Linked DNA regions of Homo sapiens: region 1 is linked to region 2. Evidence: fine-mapped expression QTL. A gene starts in region 2. The other region holds a variant in brackets. All regions are shown on one strand. Distances are between the middles of the regions. Region 1 overlaps LOC105375490 (a long non-coding RNA gene). Region 2 holds the start of ARF5 (ARF GTPase 5).

The links. PIP is the estimated chance that this variant, and not a neighbour inherited with it, causes the effect.
Region 1: its variant is the best candidate, but not a certain one, in a credible set for the expression of ARF5 in whole blood (TOPMed, PIP 0.83).

Annotation. Positions count from the first base shown.
Region 1 is chr7:127,526,341-127,537,964 of GRCh38, reverse strand. LOC105375490 (a long non-coding RNA gene) reads left to right here. Exons shown (of 5, transcript XR_007060511.1): 2 at 2,734-2,816. Among named protein-coding and RNA genes, the nearest start is that of GCC1, 53 kb to the left of the region's middle. RefSeq lists an enhancer at 473-3,633. The variant G/A (reference allele first, on the strand shown) is at 7,068.
Region 2 is chr7:127,583,753-127,595,376 of GRCh38, reverse strand. ARF5 (ARF GTPase 5) reads right to left here and starts at 6,966. Exons shown (of 6, transcript NM_001662.4): 1 at 6,812-6,966; 2 at 6,214-6,294; 3 at 5,783-5,892; 4 at 5,240-5,311; 5 at 4,289-4,414; 6 at 3,677-4,164. The coding sequence starts at 6,878. The coding sequence ends at 4,078. GCC1 (GRIP and coiled-coil domain containing 1) reads left to right here and starts at 9,781. Exons shown (of 2, transcript NM_024523.6): 1 at 9,781-11,226. The coding sequence starts at 10,195. It overlaps LOC105375490 (a long non-coding RNA gene), which reads left to right and starts at 5,531. Exons shown (of 5, transcript XR_007060511.1): 1 at 5,531-5,621. It overlaps LOC105375489 (a long non-coding RNA gene), which reads left to right and starts at 3,137. Exons shown (of 3, transcript XR_007060513.1): 1 at 3,137-3,248; 2 at 3,373-3,564; 3 at 5,426-5,508. It also overlaps FSCN3. RefSeq lists enhancers at 5,640-6,265, 6,266-6,892, 6,893-7,518, 7,519-8,145, 9,663-9,712 and 3 more and a silencer at 6,640-7,129.

The DNA of each region.
Region 1 (11,624 bases), 57 kb after region 2:
AAACATTCTCATTCCTACCAGTTAACACTCTATTGAAACTCACTAGAAATAAATTCCTTGGAGTGTATTTTCTCACAGTGACATAGTTTGTCTCCTAAGGAATCAACACATGTGGTTGCCTTTCTACCTTTCCTTGACAGGTTTAGGTTTGCAGAATTTCAGAAAGTTTATACAGCTCTCAAAAAACCAGAACTCTTTTTCTTTGTACTGTATTGCTGTAATTAATAGTTAGGACTATCAGGACTGCAAATAATTTAGAAGATTTGGGGAAAACTGAATATTTTCCATCACTGAAAACAATTCAATTCCATATTCTCTTTCCTGTGTATGTGCTCACCACTGACTTCTTTCCCTGCCTTCCTGACTCCAGGGGTGGAGGTGGGGTAACATTTTCAGTTTGCAGAGTTTTGCATCCATATTTGTTTTCTCTAGATAATTCTCAAGATGGTTAGAAGGATTTGGTGGCTGGGGGTGGTGAACACCTATGTGCAATTTGAATATCTTATTAGCTCTGTCAATTTCTAGCTAAGCATGTGACCAAGAAGTTTGGATCAGGGTATTCAGATTGGAGCCCCTTGTAATAGCACCCTTTCTAAACATTTTGTGTGATGATTAGAGCAGCATCATGGTCTTTTGTTTCCAGAGTGGGTTTGGGGAGCAGCAGACAGCCCAGGATTTTGAGTTCATTTCTTCTGGTGCAAAAGATTGAGCCCAAAAAACTGGCAAAAATCATCCCTGGTTGCTCATTCCTGCAGATGACTTTCATATTTGCTGGAGCTGCCTATTTTCAGTGCTTTCTGGGTCCTGCTCAGTCCCTGAAGAGGCAGTTGCACATCTTGCTGCACATGCCCTGTAGCCCTACCTTTGTGCAGCCGTTCCCTCCTCAGTAAAATGTTCTCAGCACACAAAAGTAGCCGTTGAAGGGTACAGCTTCGGTGCAGCATGCCGGCTGCAGCGCGCCGCTGCACCATCTTCAGTGGTGACAGACGCTGCAAACCCTGCCTAGGAAACTAATGGAGAGTCCCTAAGAAATCCAAACTCCAGCTTGGCTCACCCCAACCTTCTCCCCCACCTTCAGACCCCCAGGTGAGACTAAAACAAACAGCACACCACGCGACCAGCAGACAGCCCGGTCAGCGTTCCTGTAAGAACCTGGGCTTGCAGCAGGCGGATCATCGCGGAATTCGACCTGAATCCTAGCATGTTTTGTTTTGCTGAAAGAAATGGTGTCATCATTGTTTTCCAGCAATTTATTTTCTTGTGGTAACGTAAAACATTTCCTCTGGGATGGGCTGAGAAAAGTCAGATAGACATTTTTACAAGTGTAAAGTACTTTGGCTTGATTCAGAGTGTGAGATTTCAGAAATGCCTCCTACTAACCAGGTTACCCAGGCAGGGCTTCAAGCTGCCCCTGAGAATGGTGGCTGAAAGCCAATGGCTGAAAGCAAATGGGATGCTGCAATTTGTGGGGATCTGTTTCAGCATTTATATTTAAATACATTTCCCTCGAAGAATTCTTAATTGGAGATTTCGCCTTGAGATGCTCAAATAAATCAGGGAGCCAAACCTAGTTATTTCGCTTCGTAACCAAGCTTTATTTCAGGACTTTCTTTCCCCTGCGGTTCTTGCCCCAAAGCGATCTGTAAAGCGAACCCACTCTGATACAGTTTGAAAAGTGCATTTTGTACTTGGCTCTTTCTTTGATCGAATTAATCTGGGCTTTTTTGTAGTTCTAAATGAGGCCTATGGGCTGACAATGTAGCTGTTTAAAGGGGATTTTAGGGGATAATAGTCAATGCAAATAGTGCCATGAGAATGGCAACTTGCTTTTGCACTTTCAATCACATAATAACAGCAAAGAAAGCTTTTAAAATGAATTGAAATTTTGTGGTGTGCCATCTGGGATTATTTGGGGAAACAGTTCTGAATACTGCAGTTGGGCAAAAGAATGGAGGTATGGTCTGCTCTTAAGCTGACATGTTTCAGATGGCAACCTTATGCTAACTGGTGCAAAGTTGGCTAGCATTTTTTTTTTTATTTTCTTTCTCTTGGATTATCTGCAAAAATTCTCTTTGATTGCTGGTATTTGGGTCTGAAAAACTTTTCTATTGTTGAAGAATTCAATTCAACTCCTTGCAGCTGCTGATCCCCTTATTGTTCTACTCGTTATGTGTACGCGTCTCAGATGAATGTAGCCAAGCCTTTTAGTGCCTTAATAGGTGTCTACATAAAGGTCATTTATTCTGTCCTACTTGTTTCAACAAAAGTTTATACACAAACAACAACCACAGCTAAAACATTCACATTAATCAATTTCCTCCTGATGCAGAATGCAAAAACCGCCTCAAGCCATGTCTAGGCAAGAAAAATGTTTTCCGTATATGATGTTGTAAAGCAGCAAATAGTTTAACCAATTTCATCAAGAGCAAAGCATAATTGTTTCAGCACAGTTTCTACCTGAGAGAGCCCATTCTGGTGCTTCTGTGTCTCTGCCACCACACTCAGGTTAGGATTGAGGGCAGAGAGGGACTTAGGATGAAGTTTGTTGAGGTTTTAGCTCTTTCCTCAATGTTTACCCTAGTTTGGGGGCTGTTCTCTATAAACTTGTGGTGGGCATAAGCTATTGTCTCTGCAGGAAGGGATGCATAGATAATACTAGAATCTAGAGAAAATTGCATAAAGGAGTACAATCAGGTATCTAGAATTTGCAAAAAATAAATTATTTCCTTGCAGGTATAAGTGCCCCTGATGTACAAAATGACCACAGCCATCCCTTTTCATCGTCAAACTCCAGCAATGGCTGCTTTTAGAAAGAAGTAAGTGATGAAAATAATAAGCTCCCAATCGTAAACACTGGTGAGGATGCTGACATGCTAACTAAAATGCTGGACGGGACAGAGACAAGCAAAGGTTTCTAAGGGGCCTTGTGCTGTGAGGGGACTGCCCAGCACAGTGGACGTCATGTGGGAATTACAAAACTCTGGCCACGTGGGGGAGGGAGCAAGGAGGCCCACCCACCCTGCCTCCCACAGCAACTCCAGGGAGCTTGCCTCTGCTGCCGGGTAATTCAGAGACACTGCCACATTCTCCAGTCCATCTCAGGATGATACTTAGCCCTGTCATCACCCAAATCCTTCAGGAAATTAAAAACACATGACACGGCATCTGCAGGTTCTTCTTCTCTGCTGCATCCATTTGCTTGCTCATGAATCTTCCAAGCTCAAGGCTTAGACTTGAAAGGTTAAGGATTCAAGTCCTAAGATGCCTCACGGGATTTTGTGAAGGCCAATAATGCTGTGATTTGACCTCTGTGTATGGCTCCACCCCTTTCTCTTTCCCCGACCTCATTGAGGGTCTCTTTCCTTCACAGGCTTGGTTGGGGCGAGGGATGCGGGGTCATTGCTCTTCCAGGACAGCTACCTGATTCTCTCCCATGATCACTTCTCAGTCATTTGGTTTGGATGGGTGCTTCCCAAATTTTAGTGAGCATGTGGATGACTGGGGTTCTTATTAAAATAGATTCTAATTCAGTTGGTCTGGAATGGGGCCTGACAATCTGCATTTCTAGCCAGCTCCCTGGTGAGGCTGATGCCACCAGGGGCTCTGGATTCTAACTCACCTGGAGACGAGGTGCACTCTCACTGTCCCAGAGCCAAATATCCATTTGTAACATGATGGGAATAAAAATGCCCATTGATGCAATGAGGAATTTCTTGACTTTTCAACTCCAGTAGCTTTTCTGGGAGATTAGGAAGGGTGTGGGGACAGTCTAGTTTTAGGTAGGCTTATCTTACAGTTTATCTTGCACCTGATTTGATTCTTCGGTTTCAAGCAGCAGAGACAAAGTAAGTGGTATTTGGTCCCAGTCTTTGATCATTTCTGTATTATTCACTCATTTAAAAAATTACCAAATATATATCAGAGGCCTACTACAGGTGGGCACTGTACCAGGTGCTGTGGGTACAGTGGTAGCAGACAGATCTCATCCCTGCTCCCCCTCGGTTTACACTCCTAGAGCCTGGAGCAGGGAGGCTCAACCCTAGCCACACACTGGAATCACTTGAGGATTTTTTACAATTGATAAATGCCTGGGCCCCACTCCCAGGGAATCAAATTTAATTGGTTGGAGAGGAAGCCCAGTCATGAGCATTTTTGCAGAGCTGCTTAGGGGATTCTGGTGTGCAGCCAGGATAGAGGACCCTGGCTCAAAGGATTGAACTACATGGGGGAGGATGTGGGTGGGAATTGGGAGAAGAGCTGTCCCAGGTCCAGACTCCAGAATGGGGGGCGCAGGATCTAAGGGATGAGCATGTAAGTGAAGCTCTCTGTTTCCCTGCCAGCCCACCTTTCTAGAGCATCAAGCCCATTATAGTAAAGGAGGAAATGGCAAAGTTACCATTGCACATGGCATAACCTTGCAGCGTCACAATGTACTCATGTATAGTGATCTCATGTACTGGTTCTAAGTCACAGTATATGCTGTCTTCCTGTTCCTAAAAGTGAACTAGCCCCTTCACTGTTGCTTTGGTGCAAAAGAGGGGCAGGTTCTAGTTTGGGTGATCATCATGGTTTCTCTGGAACTGAAGGGTTTCCCAGAATGTGAAACTTTCAGTGCTAAAGTCAGGAAAGTCCTGGGGAAACCTGGATGAATAGCTCACCCTACTTCTAGTGTGATGACTGTTACTGTGGGGTTCTAAATTTGACATCAAAAGCATAATTCATAAAAGGGAAAATTGATCAATTGGATCTTAAAAACTTTTGCTTTGAGAAAGTCTATGTCAAGGAGATGAAAAGATAAGCTAGAGACTGGGAGAAAATATTTTCAAACCACATATCTGATAAAGGACCAGTATTTAGAATATATAAAGAATTTTCAAAACATAGCAATAAAAACCAAATAATTCAATTAGAAAATGGGCAAAAGGCAAGAAAAAGTATTCACTGAAGAAACTACACAGATGTCAAATCAGCACATGAGAAGATGTTCAACATAACAAGGCATTAGAGGTATGCAAAGTAAAAACCACAATGAGATATCTCTACATGCCTATCAGAATGGCTAAAATGAAAAATAACAGTGATGAATGCTGGTGAGGATATGGACAAAATGAATCACTCATATATTGCTAGTGGCAATGTAAAATAGTAAAGCCTCCCTCCCTCCCTCCCTCTCTCCCTCCTTCCTTTCCCTTCCCTCCCCTCCCCTCCCTTCCCCTTCCCTTTCCCCTTCTCTTTCCTTCCTTCCTTCCTTCCTTCCTTCCTTCCTTCCTTCCTTCCTTCCTTAGTCTTGTTCTGTTGTTCATAGCTCACTGCAGCCTTGAACTCCTGGGCTCAAGTGATCCTCCTGTCTCAGCCCACTGAGTAGCTAGGACTACAGGTGTGCATCATCACACTTAGCTAATTTAAAAAAAAAATTTTATGTTTGTATAGACAGGGTCTTGTTATGTTGCTCAGACTGGTCTTGAGCTCCTGGCCTCAAGTAATACTTCTGCCTTGGCCTCCCAAAGCACTGGGATTACAGGCATGAGCCCCTGGCACCCAGCCAAGTTGTTATCTTTCTATGCATGCCTGTATCTCTATAATATGGTGATAACTGTATTAGTCTGTTCTGGCATTGCTATAAAGAACTACCTGAGACTGGGTAATTTATAAAGAAAAAAGGTTTAATTGGCTCACTCTTCCACAGGCTGTACAGGAAGCATGGCAGGGGAGGTCTCAGGAAACTTACAATTATGACGGAAGGCAAAGAGGAAGGAGGCACGTCTTATGTGCCAGAGCAGGAGGAAGAAAGAGAAGAGGGAGGTGCCATACACTTTTAAACAACCAGATCTCGTGAGAACTCACTCACTATCATGAGAACAGCAAGGGGGAAATCTGTCCCCATGAACCAATCACCTGCTACCAGGCCCCTCCTCTAACACTGGGGTCTACAATCTGTCATGAGATTTGGGCAGGGACACAAATCCAAACCATATCAATAACTAATGCTCATAACAACAGTTCTGAAATATTATTGAATCTTGAAGTGCTTTTCAATTATCGAAAATGTTTTATAAGTGTTATTATCGGTAGACTCTACTGTATCACTCTTTTCTGCAAAGTGGTATCCATAGATGGGCTCCTAATGGTGTCTCTTCATTAATTACTAGCTGCTGATCCAGAGCATGCTCTCCTCCGGCACCTGGATGTTTAGGGTTGAAGGCATTTGGAGGAGAGAACTCCAAACTCATTATGTTGCTAATAGAAGGGCTCATCTGTTAGCTTAGGTCATTAGCCCAGTTGGATCTTTGGGTTCAGGAATCCTGAAGTGCCAAACCAAGGGACTTGTTTGTATTGGTCATGCTAAAATGGCACCTTACTGGAGCTCCTACCTCTAGTACCTGAGAAGTAAAAACAGCTGATTCCCATATAGTATTTACTATGTGCCAGACACCATTCTAAGTGTTTTACACATGTTAGCTCACTTTTAGTTCTCCTTACAACCCTATGATATGTACTACTCCTATCCCCACTTTACTAATGAAAAAACTGAGTCACAGAGAAGTTAAATTCTCCAGTGTCAAAGCTTAGTAGAACTTAGTTCATCTGGCTCTGGGGTCCAGTCCCTTTCAAAAAGTATACAAATATGTAGGCTTTATAACAGGTCATCTATTTGAATGCCAAATATTTTAACATGCCCTGAATTTTCTGGAATTTGTCTTGGTTCCCGTTTTCTAAATCAATTTATTCATTAAGTGTCTACAACACAAAGCCTTTGGACCTACATACAATATTCCAGTTTGACAAAATAGTAAAGTTACAGCAGGATGCATTAATTGTAGAGTCTTGCAGATGGCAAAACAGTATCAAGATAGAGTAATATGATTCTAAATGTCATTGTGCATGTTATCTGTTTTGAGAAATCCTGCATAATTTACTGGTACTATGGAATATATGTATTTTTCAACTTTTATTTTAGATTCAGGGGTACATATGCAGGTTTGTTGCCTGGATATATTGCATGATGCTGAAGTTTTGGGTAAGAATGATCCTGTCACCCAGGTACTGAACATGGTACCCAACAGTTA[G/A]TTTTTCAACCCTTGTCCCCCTCTTTCCCTTCCTGCTCCAGTAGTCCCCAGTGTCTATATTGTTGTCATCTTTATGTTCATGAGTACCCAATGTTTAACTCCTATTTATAAGTGAGAACATGTGGTATTTGGTTTTCTATTCCTATGTTAATTTGCTTAGGGAAATGGCCTCCAGCTGCATCCATATTGCTGCAAATCACATACTTTCATTCTTCTGTATGGCTATGTAGTATTCTATGGTGTGTATATACTACATTTTCTTTATCCAATCCACCACTGAGGGGCACCTGTGTTGATTCCCTGTCTTTGCTATTGTGAATAGTGCTGCGATGAACATGCAAGTACATGTGTCCTTTTGGTAGAATGATTTGTTTTCCTTTGGGTATATACCCAATAATGGGATTGCTGCAAATGGAATTTCTGTTTTAAGTTCTTTGAGAAATCTCTAAACTGCTTTCCATGGTGACTTAATTAATTTGCATTCCCATCAACAGTGTGTAAGCATTCCCTTTTCTCCACAACCTTGCCAACATCTGTTGTTTTTCTGACATTAATAATAGCTGCTCTGACTGGTGTGAGATGATATCTCATTGTGGTTTGGATTTGCATTTCTCTGATGATTACTAATGTGGAGCATTTTTCATGTTTGTTGCTGGCTTGTATGTCTTCTTTTGAGAAGTGTCTGTTCGTATTCTTTGCCCATTTTTAAATAGGGTTTTCTGTGTTTTCCTTGTTGAATTAAATTCCTTATGGATTCTGGATAGTAGCCCTTTGTTAGATGCATAGTTTGCAAATATTTTCTCCTATTCTGTAGGTTGTCTTTTTATTCTGTTAATAGTTTTTTTTGCTCTGCAGAAGCTCTTTAGTTTAATTAGGTCCCACTTGTCATAATTTTTTTGTGATTGCTTTTGAGGACTTAGTCATAAATTCTTTCCCGAAGTCAATGTCCAGAATGGTGTTTCCTAGGTTTTCTTCTAGGAGTCTTATAGTTTGAGGTCTTACATTTAAATCTTTAATTCATTTTGAGTTAATTTTTTATATGATGGAGGTGAAAGTCCAGTTTCATTCTTCTGCATATGGCTAACCAGTTATCCCAGTATCATTTATTCAATAGGCAGTCTTTTCCTCATTGCTTATTTTTGTCAACTTTGTCAAAGATCAGATGGCTATAGGTGTATGGCTTTACTTTTTGATTCTCTCTTCTGTTCCACTGGTCTATGTGTCTGTTTTTGTACCAGTACCATGCTGTTTTGTTTACTGTAGCCTTATAGTATAGTTTGAAGGTAGGTAATGTGATGCCTCTGGCTTTGTTCTTTTTGCTTGAAATTGCTTTGGCTATCTGGGCTCTTTTGGTTCTGTATAAATTTTAGCATAGTTTTTTTTCCCAATTCTGTGAAAATTGACATTGGTAGTCTCATAGGAATAGCTTTGAATCTGTAGATTGTTTTGGGCAGTTGGCCATTTTAATAATATTGATTCTCCCAATTCACGAGCAGGGAATGTCTTTCCATTTGTTTGTATCATCTGTGATTTCTTTTAGCAGAGTTTTGTAGTTCTCCTTGTTGAGTTCTTTCACTTCCTTGGCTAGATGTGTTCCTAGGTATTTGTGTGTGTGTGTGTGTGTGTGTGTGTGTCAGCAGGGGTACTATTGTAATTGGGTTTGCACTGTGGCTATTGTAAATGGGTTTGCATTCTTGATTTGATTCTCGGCTTGAACATTATTGGTGTATAGAAATGCTATTGTTTTTTGTACATTAATTTTATATCCTGAAACCTTACTAAAATGATCAGTTCTAATAGCCTTTTGGCAGGGTCCTTAGGGTTTTCTAAGTATAGAATTATATCATCAGTGAAGAGAGATAATTTGACTTTTTATTTTCCTATTTGGATCCCTTTTATTTCTTTCTCTTGCCCAGTTGCTCTCGCCAGCAATTCCATTACTATGTTGAATACAAGTGGTGAGAGTGGGCATCCTTGTCTTGTTCCAGTTCTCATGGGAAATGATTCTAGTTTTTGCCAATTTGGTGTGATGTTGGCTGTGAGTTTGTCAATAGATGGCTCTTATTATTTTGAGGTATGTTCTTTGATGCCTAGTTTCTTGAGAGTTTTTGTCATGAAGGGATGTGGGATTTATCAAAAGCTTTTTCTGCATCTATTGAGATGATTTTATGGTTTTTGTTTTTAACTCTGTTTATGTGGTCAATCACATGTATTGATTTGCATATGTTGAACTAACCTTGCATCCCAGGAAACAAGCCTACTTGATCATGGTGAATTAACTTTTTGATGTGTTTTTGAATTCAGTATTTTGTTGAGGCTTTTTGTGTCTATGTTCATCAGGAATATTGGCCTGTAGTTTTCTTTTTTCATTGTGTCTTTGCCAGATTTTGGTATCAGGGTGATGCTGGCTTTGTGGAATGAGTTAGGGAGCAGTCCCTCCTATTTGTTTTTTTGGAATAGTTTCAGTAGAATTGGTACCAGCTCTTCTTTGTACATCTGGTAGAATTCAGCAGTGAATCTGTCTGGTCCAGGGCTTTTTATGATTGGTAAGTTTTTTATACTGATTCAATTTTGGAACTCGACATTAGTTTGTTCAGTGTTTCAATTTCTTCCTTATTCAATCTTGGGACATTATGTGTTTTCAGAAATTTATTTTCTCTAGATTTTCTAGTTTGTGTGCATAGAGGTGTTCATAATAGTCTCTGAGGATCTTTTGTATTTCTGAGGGATGAGTTGTAATGTCACTTTTGTCATTTCTGATAGTGCTTGATTGGACCTTCTCTCTTTTTTTCTTTGTTAATCTAGCTAGTGGTCTGTCAATCCTGTTTATACTTTCGTAGAACCAACTTTTGGTTTTGTTTATTCTTTTTACGGATTTTCGGGTCTCGATTTTTCGAGTCTCGATTTCATTCACCTCAGCTCTGATTTTAGTTATTTCTTTTATCCTGCTAGCTTTCAGATTAGTTTGTGCTTGTTTTTTGCCAAGGAGAAACTGCAGCTGTAGTAGCCTCTTCCTGCCCCAGGCTTGTGACTGGAGAGAGCCCAATTCTAGCCCTACTGCTGAGGCACTTTCGACAGTTCTGGCTGTTGAGGCCCCTTCCATAGTTCAGAGTAGGTGCTTGAGACTAAAATGCCTGCGTGGCCATGCTGCCGGGCTGCCTAAGAGTGGCTGATTGGTATGTGCTTGGATTAAGAATGGCATCCTGCTCTCAGTCCTGGGTCTAGAAAAATGTCTGCAGCTTTTCCTGGTGTCTTTCCCTCACAGCATCTCCAAGCCTCTCCCCAACTTAGCTCCAGGGCTTGGGAGAAACAAAGTGGTCTCCCTCGGCCTGGGTTGCTCAGAGCCCCAGTGGAAAGGTGAGTCACAGAGAAGGGGGTCTCTGCCTCTGTGACTGTTCTCTGTCTTCCCTAGTTAGCAAATTCACTACAGATGTGCTTACCTATGAATACCAGAATGTTTTTTATTTTATGGTATGTTTGTAGGCTTGGAGAGATTTGAATGGCTCTAGATCTAACCACAAGCTGCTGTTTCTTCATGTGGCATGTATTTACTTAAAAATAAAATGAGGCTTCATTATCTCATGACTAAGTCTAAGGGTTTTTTTTTGCAGGAATTGTTATTGTTGACATTATTATTATTAATGAAATTAATAGTAATTTCTCCTTTAGTCATTTCTGTTTCTCTATTTTCTGAGAAAAATTATTGGCTGCACTGGGGGTAAGTTACATGATTTTCCTCTTTTTTCACTCTTAATTTAGACTACTGGGCTAGGTCCATGTGGGAACTAATGATCGGTAACTAACTTTTTGGTAAATTACCACTTGAAGAAAAGGGGAGACACCTTGAGAACGAGAAGTCAGTCTGTCAAAACAGTAAATAGAGACATCCCTGTAATTTTGTAATTTTTCAAATTATGCCAGTAATGTTTGCTTGATGATGTAAGAAATAGCATCTCAAGCACACAGGCATCAAAATTAGCTGGAAAAAAACCTGCTAGGCCATCATCAAAGAGTCTTCTGTCTGACTCGGAACATAAAGGGCAGAGACAACAGTGTCTGTTGCTGTGACTTGCCACAGACTAACATGTGCACATCCACCAATTTTGTGACCCACAGGAGCAATAAGAGAGTCGTGGCCAGAATTTAGCTGCATTATAGAAAGAAAATGTTTGTGTATTCAGGGACAACTGAACTACACCTCAAATCTTATTAGGCATTCTTTCTCATCTGAGAAATCTGGCAACTGGCAAAAGATGGAAAAAAGTACCGAGTACACACTGTCGTAATGGAAGTGTTTGTGCAAAATGATCAGAAGACTTCTTCCACATTTCCTTATTAAGTTCTGCATTATGTCATCATAAGCTATTATTCTACGTTGATTACTATTTTTGTAATATATATGACTTAAATATAATTCTATTTGACGTCTCAGAACATTTTAGAACTGGAAGGGGCCTCTGAGATAATGGCTATAATTACAGAGTGTTCACCCCCTGTCAAGACCCCAATTAGTGCTCTGTAGATTGTTTCATTCTCTACAATGTGTGAGGTGGGTAT
Region 2 (11,624 bases):
GGCCCTGCACGCTCTTTAGTCGCACCACGGCCTGTGTCTCATGCTCATTGCTCACCAAGATCTCCCAGGTCTGGAGGCATCAGGAGGGAGAAGAGGGAAATCAGTATCACGAAGTTACCAGACCAAGGAGCCCTGCAACTGTCATGGCTGGTATCACCCTGGCACCTTCATCAGCACCAGCCACCTCCTCTTCCACATCAGCCCTGGTATCTCCTTGCTGTCAGCTCTTCCACTTTCCCACTATCCCCTCATCAAGAGATCTCTGGGCCCTTCCACCCCTGCAGCCAGATGGCACTATCCAAAGAGAAGTTCTAGATGTCTACCTCCTTCAGCTAACAGAAGGTAAACCCTCCCTCCTTTCTTAATCCCACTCTTCAATACCTAATTTTTAAAGAAACGCTTTGGTGTAAGTCTTACTTTTTTCTTCCTCACTGTTGTCCGCAGAGAGCACACTTAGCCAATACCTCCATCCCCAAAGGTTGCCTTCCAGCATGGCAAGACAGAAGCAAAAGCTCTTATAGGCAGGCCCTGGCTCCAGGGATGAAGATGGGAGCATGAACAGTTCAGATGCAACTGCCTGGTTCAGCTGTGATCAACCTTGTTATAAGAGGAAGAACTTTGCCCCTGCCTCAGTCTGGCACCCATCCCAGAGGTGCCTACATTCCTCTCTAGAATGAAGACCGACACTGCTAGGGCTTCTGGAGTTCCCCATTCTCAAACCACAACCAGAACAGAAACATAGGCTTTGCAATAACTCCACTGGTCCAACTTCCCCTGGATGCCCACAATTCTGCTTTCCCACCTGGGCTCTCCACTTCTCCTCTTTCTGACACAACCACCCTGTGCTCTCCACTTCTCTTCTTTCTGACACAACCACCCTGTGCTGGGATGGGGAATAGGGACAGTTAGAGCAGGACAAGGCAGCAAGGGCAAGGCTGAGGCTTCACCTTGCGGAATAAATTGAGAGGTGGGAGATGGGGCAATAGGGTCTGTGAACAAAAGCCTAGAGTAGAAAAGTCTCAGGCCTGGCACTGGCAGAACCTAGGAAAGTGATTAGGTTGAGAGTACACCCTGCTTTCATATACAGGCAAGTGCGCACACACACACACACACACACACACACACACAGCTTGGCCACTCAGAAAACTGGTTCCAGTATACTTTCATATACAGGCAAGTACACACACACACACACACACACACACACACACACACAGCTTGGCCACTCAGAAAACCGGTTCCAGTATACTTTCATATACAGGCAAGTACATACACACACACACACACATACACTCACGCACACACACGCGCGCGCGCACACACACACACACAGCTTGGCCACTCAGAAAACTGGTGCCAGCATGGGTTTGCTTTGTCACCTGTCTCCTGCCCAAACTCTTCGCAGTTGCAGTGACTGTATTCTTGCATGCCTCAAAGGTGAGGTAGGTTCCTGCCCAGCTGATGAGCCCAACCCTTAGGTCCTCAGCCTTGGGATGTCTGTGTATCCACTCTGTCTCATCCATGGGGCTGACACCACAGGTGATGTCTCCGTCTGGCCCAGCCCTCCCCCCCGTGGTGAGGTTCCACAGGCCATAGGGCCTGGAATAGGGCCTGTAGTACCCACCAGATGTTCCCAGAGAGAACTTCCCAGGCAGAGGCTGGCCTGGGGCCCAGCACCTCTGTGACCCGGGAGCATTGTGACTGTGAGGGCAGCCTCTTATCACACCACAGTGGGGAAAGGGCCCTGGCGCAGCAGCATTAATCCATGGCCTAGAGGAGGCGGGTGCAGAGCCTCCGGTGTTTGCCTTCCTATTCCCCTTTGGGCACCAAAGTAGGCTGAGCTGAGACCAGGATCCGGAACTTCAACCTGTGAATTTAGGCAAGTTTTTTCCTTTCTTTACCTCCGTTTCTCATTCTGGTAACAGGATAGAAAGCAACCTCCTTTCTCCCAAGGAAGTGAGTTCTGCCTGGCTCCCTTGCAACTCAAGTATTTTGTTAAGTTCAAGATAACCAAGAAAAATCTATCAGCTTTTATGGCCCTTAGGAGGATGAGGTCAAAATGTTCCAGATGCTATTTTGCAGGGAGTATGAGGAAACCCTAGTTAATCAGTTGACATCAAATTACTCATATTCATCAGGAAGGCTGGCTCAGGACCTGGGTAAGGAGAAGGGCCTAGGTGGAGAGAGCACCAAGCACCCCTCCTCAACCCCAGCTGCTCTGCCAGTGGGTAGGACATCTGGCTGGGCAGATAGAGCTCCTGCAAGGGTATCTTTCCCCTCCAAAGAATCTCTGAGTTATAGTCTCTTGGACTCACTTCCTGCAAAGCTTGAGGAGAAAACCCAGCTCAGAACCTGGAAAAGTGACATGAAAGAAAAACAAAGGCAAAAACAAGTGATGATGAGTTCTGCCTAAGCCTGGCTAGGATCCAAGGGAAAATGGGCAGTCGATCACACTTGGGGAATAAGCCACACCCCTGGTTCCTTTTTCTGAGTCAGGGTCTTGCTCTGCTAGCCAGGTTGGAGTGCATCTCAGTTGACTGCAGCCTTGATCTCCCAAGCTCAAGCGATCCTCCCGCCTCAGCCTCCTGAGGTGCTGGGACCACAGGTGTCCATCTCCATGCCCAGGTAATTTTTTATTTTTGTTTTTTGTAGAGATGGGGTCTTGCCATGTTGCCCAGGCTGGTCTTTAACTTCTGGGCTCAAGCAATCCTCCTACCTCAGCCTCCCAAAGTGCTAGGATTACAGGCATGAGCCACAGTGCCCAGCCACCCGTGGTTCCTTATACCTGCTTTCCTATTCCCCATAGGAGGGGTCTTCCCAAGTAGCAAGAGTCTCAGTGGTGTGCAGCAAGGAACTACAAGCCCCAGACCCCACCGATGTTTTATAAAATAAGGGTAATAGACTATTAGTGGCAGAATTCCCTGGGTAATTTTATTTATTTATTTAATTTATTTATTTATTTTGAGACGGAGTCTCACCCTGTCACCCAGGCTGGAGTGCAGTGGCACGATCTCAGCTCACTGCAAGCTCCGCCTCCCAGGTTCACACCATTCTCCTGCCTCAGCCTCCTGAGTAGCTGGGGCTACAGGTGCCTGCCACCACGCCTGGATAATTTTTTGTATTTTTTTTTTTCTAGTAGAGATGGGGTTTCACCGTGGTCTCGATCTTCTGACCTCGTGATCCGCCTGCCTCAGCCTCCCAGAGTGCTGGGATTACAAGCGTGAGCCACTGCGCCCGGCCTCCTCTGGGTAATTTTAAAGATGCATATTGTTGGGCATCAGACTAGTCCTGATGAATCACATTTTCTGAAATGTACCTCAGGATTCGTATTATTAACGCACATTCTCTCCCCCTCTAATTTTAATGTGTAAGGCAAACATTAAGAACGGCTCTAAGTAGCTACGAGAATGATGGGAAACAATTACGTGGTTCATGGAACTATGAAGGGAGATCCTGTAATCTTCAGCAAAGGCTCCTTGGAGCTGGGAAGGAATGAGATTTGCACCACTGTAAACCCTACAGTATTTCCAGCCCAAGAATAAGGAGGGAGAAGCTGAGCTGAGGGTATGTGTGGGTGGGGTTGCCCTGCAGCCTTAGCTGCTTTGATCCTCTCCCACGTTGTCTCTTGGTACCCAGTAACCTAGCCTCTCCTTTGCAGGCTACAGACAACACCGTGTACAAACCACAGCAAATTTATTACTCAAGATCCAGTGCCACATTATAGCACCACCCGAAGCCCTCACCTTCCCCCTCCCAACCTGGCCCCTAGAGTACACCCAAAACAGAAAAAAAAAAGGAAACCCAGATCCCTGCTCCTCCTCTGGAAGAGGGGGCCTTGGCCAGGAAGCCCCTTCCATAGGTCCCAGCAGGCAGGAGAGTGGACCCCTCTGTGCCCAGAGAGCAAGGCTCCAGGCTCCAACAACAGAGAGAACATGCAGGCAGGAGCAGGAGCAGAGGCCTGTGGCTATGGGGGAGGAAAAGTGGGAGGAAAGGGCACTGCCTGAGGAGTCCGGGAGTCTGGTCATCCCGGGGATGCACGCAGGAGCTTCCGGGCATCAGGGGCCTGCCCCTGGCTGGTTAGCGCTTTGACAGCTCGTGGGACAGCCAGTCCAGACCATCGTACAGACCTGTGCCTTGGGTGGCACAGGTGGCCTGGACATACCACTGTGGGGAAAAGGAAAGAAAGAGGTCAGCAACCAGGAACAAAAGGAATGCCTTTATATCTCTGTCCCAGCCTGCAGCTTCCCTCAAGAGGCAGGATTCAGCACCAGGTGGGCAGGACCCCTACCGTGCGGCTGCGTAAGTGCTGTAGCCCCAGCTTGTCAGTCAGCTCGCTCACGGGCATGGCGTTGGGCATGTCCTGCTTGTTGGCAAATACCAGCAGCACTGCATCCCGCAGCTCGTCCTCCTGCAGCTGAGAGAGGAGAAGAGAAGGTGGGACCCAGGCTGCGTCTCCTCTACTGTGTTGGGGAATTCCCTTTCTACCTCCTAGCATCTTGATTGGAAAAAAAAAGTATTGTGCAGTCTGCCGTTGAAGACAAGACATAGTTGTAAATGAGCTTGAGGTGACCTGAGCCCATAAGTCCAGAAAAGAAAGACCTTTTCCTAATTTGAGTACTTGCCTAGGCAAAATGACAACATTTCCAAATGGAAAAGGCAGGAATGTAAAATGTTTCTCTTTGCCACATATAAGTCCCATCTCTCCCACAACTTCTCAGACTCAGATGTAAAGACATGAGAATGCGGCCGGGCGCAGTGGCTCACTCCTGTAATCCCAGCACTTTGGGAGACCAAGACGGGTGGATCACCTGAGGTTGGGGGTTCAAGACCAGCCTGGCCAACATGGTGAAACCCCGTCTCTACTAAAAATACAAAAATTAACTGGGCATGGCAGCGGGCGCCTGTAATCCCAGCTACTTGGGAGGCTGAGGCAGGAGAATTGCTTGAACCCGGGAGACGGAGGTTGCAGTGAGCCGAGATTGCACCATTGCACTCCAGCCTGGGCAACAACAGCAAAACTCCCATTTCAAAAAAAAAAAAAGACAAGACAATGCACAGAAAAAGTGAAAAAGTCACTCCCATCCAAAACAGGGTGAGATACACAATGTGTCTGTCCACAAAGAAAAACTTATATTCCTGGTCTTCAATGCCTGTTGGGGGCTCCCTGACTTCTATACCACTACAGAGATCACTCTGTCCCCAAGCTGAGGGCTCAGTTCCCAGGGCTCTGGGTACTCACCATCTTCTGGAGTTCATCAGCAGATTCTTGGACCCGCTCCCGGTCATTACTGTCCACCACAAAGATGAGGCCCTGGGCAGGAAGGAAGGAAGAAAGGAGAAGCAATCACTTCTGCCTGGGACATACCGTAGTGTGGCCCTTTCTGTTTTCTTCCCATTTGTAATTGTGTCAATCCTTCTCATCTAGTAAACTCTACAGAAGTTTACAGAACTCTATAGAAGCTCTACAGGAGTCATGGCACAAACTAGAGACCCCACTGCAAAGAGGAAGTAGTTTATCCAAAGATGTGCAAGGAAATAAAGACATGTTATGAGGGCTAAATCAGGCAGCCTGGTCCCAGAATCCTGCTTCTAAAGAGAAGTCCAAGCTGGGGAAGACTAAGGTGAGTTCTGAAGAGTGAGTAGGGGATAGCCAAACAGAAGGGGTAGAAGTGGGGAAGGGTTTTTTCCTTGGCCTGGGGGCCCAGCCTAGGCCAACAATTCTGTTCTCCCAGCCCTAACACCTTTTCCCGTGGGGTTAGAAAGTCCCCTCCCAACACTCCACCTGAGTGTTCTGGAAGTAGTGCCGCCACAGAGGCCGAATCTTGTCCTGGCCTCCCACGTCCCAGACTGTGAAACAGATGTTCTTATATTCCACTGTTTCTACATTGAAGCCTGCAGATAATTGGAAAAAAAAGATGAGAAAACTCCTGAAAGAAAGGAACTCACTAAAACTACTTAGATTTCAGCAGGGACACAAAACCAGAAGGCAATGATCAAGGCCCAGGGGAACAGAACCCCAGAACTGGCGGTCAACAGGGCGGGGCTAGGTCACATCCACCCTGCCTCCGGTATCCACGTAGAGATACCCTGACCCACTTCTCAAATAGCTGTATCTGGTGTCAGGGTCAGCTCCAGAAAAGTGGCAGAACTGGGAGCAGACCCCGCGAGGGCCCGCCGCGGCGCTCCCGCTCCCTGCTTCGTCCCCGGGCTCACCTATGGTTGGGATGGTGGTGACAATCTCCCCCAACTTCAGTTTGTACAGGATTGTGGTCTTGCCAGCCGCATCCAAGCCAACTGCAACGGAAAGGGGCACAGGGATGGAGATGGGAGCGAGGGAGCCCCCTAGAGACCAGGGAAAGGGAGAGGCCACAACAGCTGATGGTGACTGGGGCGGAGAGCGGGAGCGCCTCCAGGTGCGCGTCGTTATCTACCTTTGAGGCCTGGAGGGCAGTCGGGTGGCGTGAGCCAACTCCAAAGAGGGCGCGGAGCGGGAGAGGACTGGGAGGCAAGGGGCACGGGAGGTAGGCCGCGCTCGTTTTAAAAGTCGTCTCCAAGGGCGGAATCCTCCCTTCTTACCAGCCGGGCTGGGGCGGAGGGAGCTTCACCCCACCCAGGCCCGCAGCTCCGGGTGTCAGGCCCCGGGGTCGGCGATGCAGACCGGGACCCGCCCGAGAGCAGAGGCCCCGGGGCGTTATGAGGTGGGTGACTCGGGGCCAGAGACCCAGGTGAGCGGGGCTGGAGGGACGCGGGGGCGGAAGGGCTGCGCCGGGGCCGGCGCCCCGGTCCGGGCCGCGCGCTCGATCTGCCTCACCCATGAGAATCCGCATCTGCTTCTTCCCGAAGATCCGCGAAAAGAGCGCGGACACGGTGAGGCCCATGGCGGGGCCCGGGGAGGGGCGCGGGCACCGACGCGGGGTGCGGGCTGGAACTGGCCGGCCGCGGGGGGATGGGGCGCAGCAGCAGCAGGAGGAGGCTCCGCCGCCGCCTCCGCGCGTCGCTGCCCTCCCGACGTCACCGCGGGCCCGCCCCCGTCCGGGCCCCGCCCCCGGCTCTCGGCCCCGCCTCCCCCGGCTCTGGCTCCTAGGGGAGCTGAAGCTCCGCGAGTTGCCGCTGCTGGCCTGGGTCCCGTGCGGCCCTTACTTGGGAACGGGTCTAGGTCTCTAACGCGCCTGCCAGGCCTGTGGCCGCCGAACCGGCAGCCCGAGCGCGGCTGAGGAAAGGATTCATCGCTCCGCAGCGGCCCCTGCCCCCATTTTCAGTGGCCGGCCGCTGGGCTTTGGTTTGTTGCGTCCAGGCCCCTAGGGGCTCCGGTTTTAGCCCTTGGGAACCAGTAGCACTGAACGTGTGCACCACTCTCCTTTGGGGAGTGGAAGCTGCGATTAGGGGTCTTGGTCCTCCCTTTACTGCCTCATCTTCCACCGAGGGACTTGCGCGTAGTAGGTGGTCGTGTGAAGAGTGCGCGGGAGGTAGGGGAAGGTGCCCGAGTGCTAGCTAGCTTCCATGGTTCCTCAAAACGCCTACTTCCTAATTCCCAATCCGCAGAACCAGTGTAAGATTCCCGGCCTTGGGCGGCGGGGTCACAGACCCACTCCTGGGCTGTTGGAGAAGTCCACCTTCGTTTGGATCGCCCTGCGGGCCCCGCCTCTCAGTCCAGGCGCTGGCCGCTTTGCCGAAGTTCCTCACTTTGCCACAGACTTGTGGACCTGGCTTATTCTTGCACATCCATTCAGGATTTTGTGAAGATCTTGACTCCGTAGACCCAAAGAGCTTCACATGTCATTTCCCTGCCTCATTTTAACATCTGAGAGGAGAATAGCAAAATAGGAATGAAATTCTTCTGCGGTGGAGACTGGCTCATTGCCAGGCATTATTAGGCCTAACAAATGCTTGTTCAGTTGAACTGGACTGATAGATTCTCAATGGAGCGAGGGTAGGTGTTATGTCTACTCTGGATTCCCAGTGGGCTTCTAGGATCAATTGTTTATGGACTCGAGGTAAACTGAGCTGGGAATAAAAAAACCTTCACTCATTCATTTGCTTTTTCAGCAGATATTTACTGAGCACCCACCACTTGCCAGCACGTGATTTCAGGCTTTAGTTCAAATCTTAATTCTGCCATTTCTTGAGGATTTGGCTTCAGCACTCCTCATAACTCTTCCGTTATTTCATCATCTATAAAATGAGACTTGTTCTAACTTAAGGGGTTATGGTGAATCTTAAAATGATTTGATAATGTGACTGAATGTTATGTATAATACAGCTTGATGTTATTTGGGCCACTGAGAAACGGGGTCTGAACAGACCTCCAGGGCCTGCCCCATCCTGATCTGCAAAGTCTGTAACAAGGACAGACTTTGGGAAACAGGTATGAGTGAGTGAATGACTTTCCTTTTCTCTTCAGTCATAGACTTGCATCCCTAAGAAGGCTTTTACGAGGCTGAAGAGTACATTTTAGAGAGTTCCAATATAATAACAGAACTAGTGTTCACCAAGTTAGGTCAATTCTACATTTAGCTCTTTTATCAGCCTCTTTGCTTCCATCTCTGTTGTCACTACCTTCTGTTCCCCATGACTGAAAGTCTCCTCACAGGTTTCCTGCCCCTTGTTCCCTCCAACATGTCATACAAGTCTTGATGACATCCCACTTTTCAGATTAAAATCCATTAGGGCCTTACTATAACCCAAGATAAAATTTAAATGCCATAAGTTGGGTCCCTACCTATTGTGCCAGCCCCTCTGTTGTCACCTCCTTCACATACCCTAAGCTACTGAATGCTTTCTGGGTGAGTCAAACTCCGATACCCTACAGGTCTTTGCATTTTTTTCCACCTGCCTGGAATGCTAGTTTCCCTGATCTCTGGTTAGGTGGACAATCACGACTCATCCTTCAAATCCCAAAGTATTATTCCCAAGAGCCTTCCATGCCTCACCTAGACAGGCCTCTTTCCTCTTAACTTTCATACCACTTTGAATATACCCAGACATACTGGTGTGATAGCAGGACATATTTGTATGTCTGGTTCCTCACTAGATTGCGAGCTCCCTGAGGGCAAGGTCGTGTCTCTTAATGGTGTTACCATCTGGCACAGCACGTGATACGTTGAGAATCAGACTGATTAGAACTCCTAAACTTACTAGCTGTGTGACCTTGGGCATGTTACGTATAACCTTTCTGCCTCATGTTTTCATATCTGTAAAATAGTGCTAATGAGTATAGTGCTTACAAGAATTACTGTAAAGACTAAATAGCAAAACTCTTGTGAGCTCCTGGTATATAGCTGGCACTCAGGATAGACATGGCTATAGAGTGCCCTCCGTAAATATTTGTGGAATCAACTCAGCAGAACTAAGGAAGGGTACTATTAGGCTGTATGCCTACTAGGTACCAAGCACTGTGCTATAGAGGACTGCAGTTTTCGTGGTCTAAATGGGAGTCTTAATTGTTGCCTTTTAGGGACCATGGGTCCTGAGCTCCCAAATCGTTGGATGCGTCGTTCACCTGGGTGTTTGGTAAGAATGCAGTGCGACGTTGCTCTGTCGCTCGCTGAGCGTAGCCCGAGGTCAAGCTTGGGCGCTCTCACAAAACCGGTGCCACTCTGGTGTCTTCGACTTTGCTGGCTTCGCCTTTCCCAAGCCTGTTTTTTGCCGCTCGCGGCCCCACTGCGTTCTCAACAGGCCGCGCCCACCCACCGGCCGACTTGGCCCCGCCTACCTTGGGCCCACTGGGGGCGGAGCCTGCGGCGCCTCGCTGACGTCACTTCCAGCGGACACGGAAGCGCCGTTGTCGGCAGGCAGCTTTAGTTAGGATGTCGTGATGGGACCGAGCTCAGCGTAACCCTCTGGCCGACGTGGGCCGAGGGGGCCGGCCCGGGCTGCTGTGGCCCAGACGAGCGGAGAGTGCGGAGCGGCTTCTGGGCCAGCGCTAACGAGCCCTGGCAGTGCGCACCTCTGGTGCCAGTGTCGCCCCGCCTCCGGGGTAGAATCCGCCCCAGCCCTCCGGGCCTGGGACCGGGCGGCCGCTTTCGCCAGTCCGTCCGGCCGTTCCGCATTAGGTCCGGGATAACTAGGTGGAGTAGGTGTGCGGCCCGCCGCCGGACAGCCCGCTCGCTGTTTCTTTAAGCCCCCGCCTGCGTCTTCACGGCCCTCTCCCGTTCTGCTGGAAAGCTGACGTGGGGCAATCCGTTCAGACCCTCCATGGAGAAGTTTGGGATGAATTTCGGGGGCGGCCCGAGCAAGAAGGACTTGCTGGAGACTATAGAGACCCAGAAGAAGCAGCTTCTCCAGTACCAGGCACGGCTCAAGGATGTGGTCCGTGCCTATAAAAGCCTGCTGAAGGAGAAAGAGGCATTAGAGGCCAGCATCAAGGTGCTGTCGGTATCCCACGAGGCAGATGTGGGCCTCGCAGGTGTCCAGCTTCCAGGCCTCACCTTTCCTGACTCTGTGGATGACCGGTGCTCCACTCACAGCGAGGATAGCACTGGGACCGCCACTAGCTTGGATACTGCGGCCAGTCTCACCAGCACCAAGGGTGAGTTTGGGGTAGAAGATGACAGACCGGCCCGTGGACCACCACCTCCAAAGTCCGAAGAGGCCAGTTGGTCCGAGAGTGGCGTTAGCAGTAGCAGTGGGGATGGGCCATTTGCAGGTGGGGAGGTGGACAAAAGACTGCACCAGCTGAAGACTCAGTTGGCTACTTTGACCAGTTCTTTGGCTACAGTCACTCAGGAGAAGTCCCGCATGGAGGCTTCTTACTTGGCTGACAAGAAAAAGATGAAACAGGACTTAGAGGATGCCAGTAACAAGGCGGAGGAGGAGAGGGCCCGCCTGGAGGGAGAATTGAAGGGGCTGCAGGAGCAAATAGCAGAAACCAAAGCCCGGCTTATCACGCAGCAGCATGATCGGGCCCAAGAGCAGAGTGACCATGCCTTGATGCTGCGTGAGCTCCAGAAGCTGCTGCAGGAGGAGAGGACCCAGCGCCAGGACTTGGAGCTTAGGTTAGAAGAGACCCGAGAAGCCTTGGCAGGACGAGCATATGCAGCTGAACAGATGGAAGGATTTGAACTGCAGACCAAGCAGCTGACCCGTGAGGTGGAGGAGCTGAAAAGTGAACTGCAGGCCATTCGAGATGAGAAGAATCAGCCAGATCCCCGGCTGCAAGAACTTCAGGAAGAGGCTGCCCGCCTTAAGAGCCATTTCCAGGCTCAGTTACAGCAGGAAATGAGAAAGGTAATTATCCATATCTCTTTCAAACATCAGCCATTGACCTGAAGTGAGAAATATTAGGGTTTTTTTCCTCCTTTGCTAGTTAGAGCTAAGTGTCTATACTGTCATTTTTGATGCCACCTGAGAAGTTCCACTAGTGAACCTGGGAAGTCCTGTTCTATGCGGTGTTGACATATGTGCTTCCAGGAGGATGTGGAGCTTCTCAGTGTAGGCTGGGTTGAAGCCAGACAGCTCTGCACTTCTGGGCATTGGCATCTTACCAGCTGTGCTCTATGAAGCAGTATAGTGGCAGCTGTATAGTAAAAGGTAGCGTGTCTTCTGTTGGTATGTGCCTCTAGGAAGAGTGGCCGAAGGCAAAGGGGATTTTCTCAGAAGTAACCTCTTGTCATTGCCTTTACTCA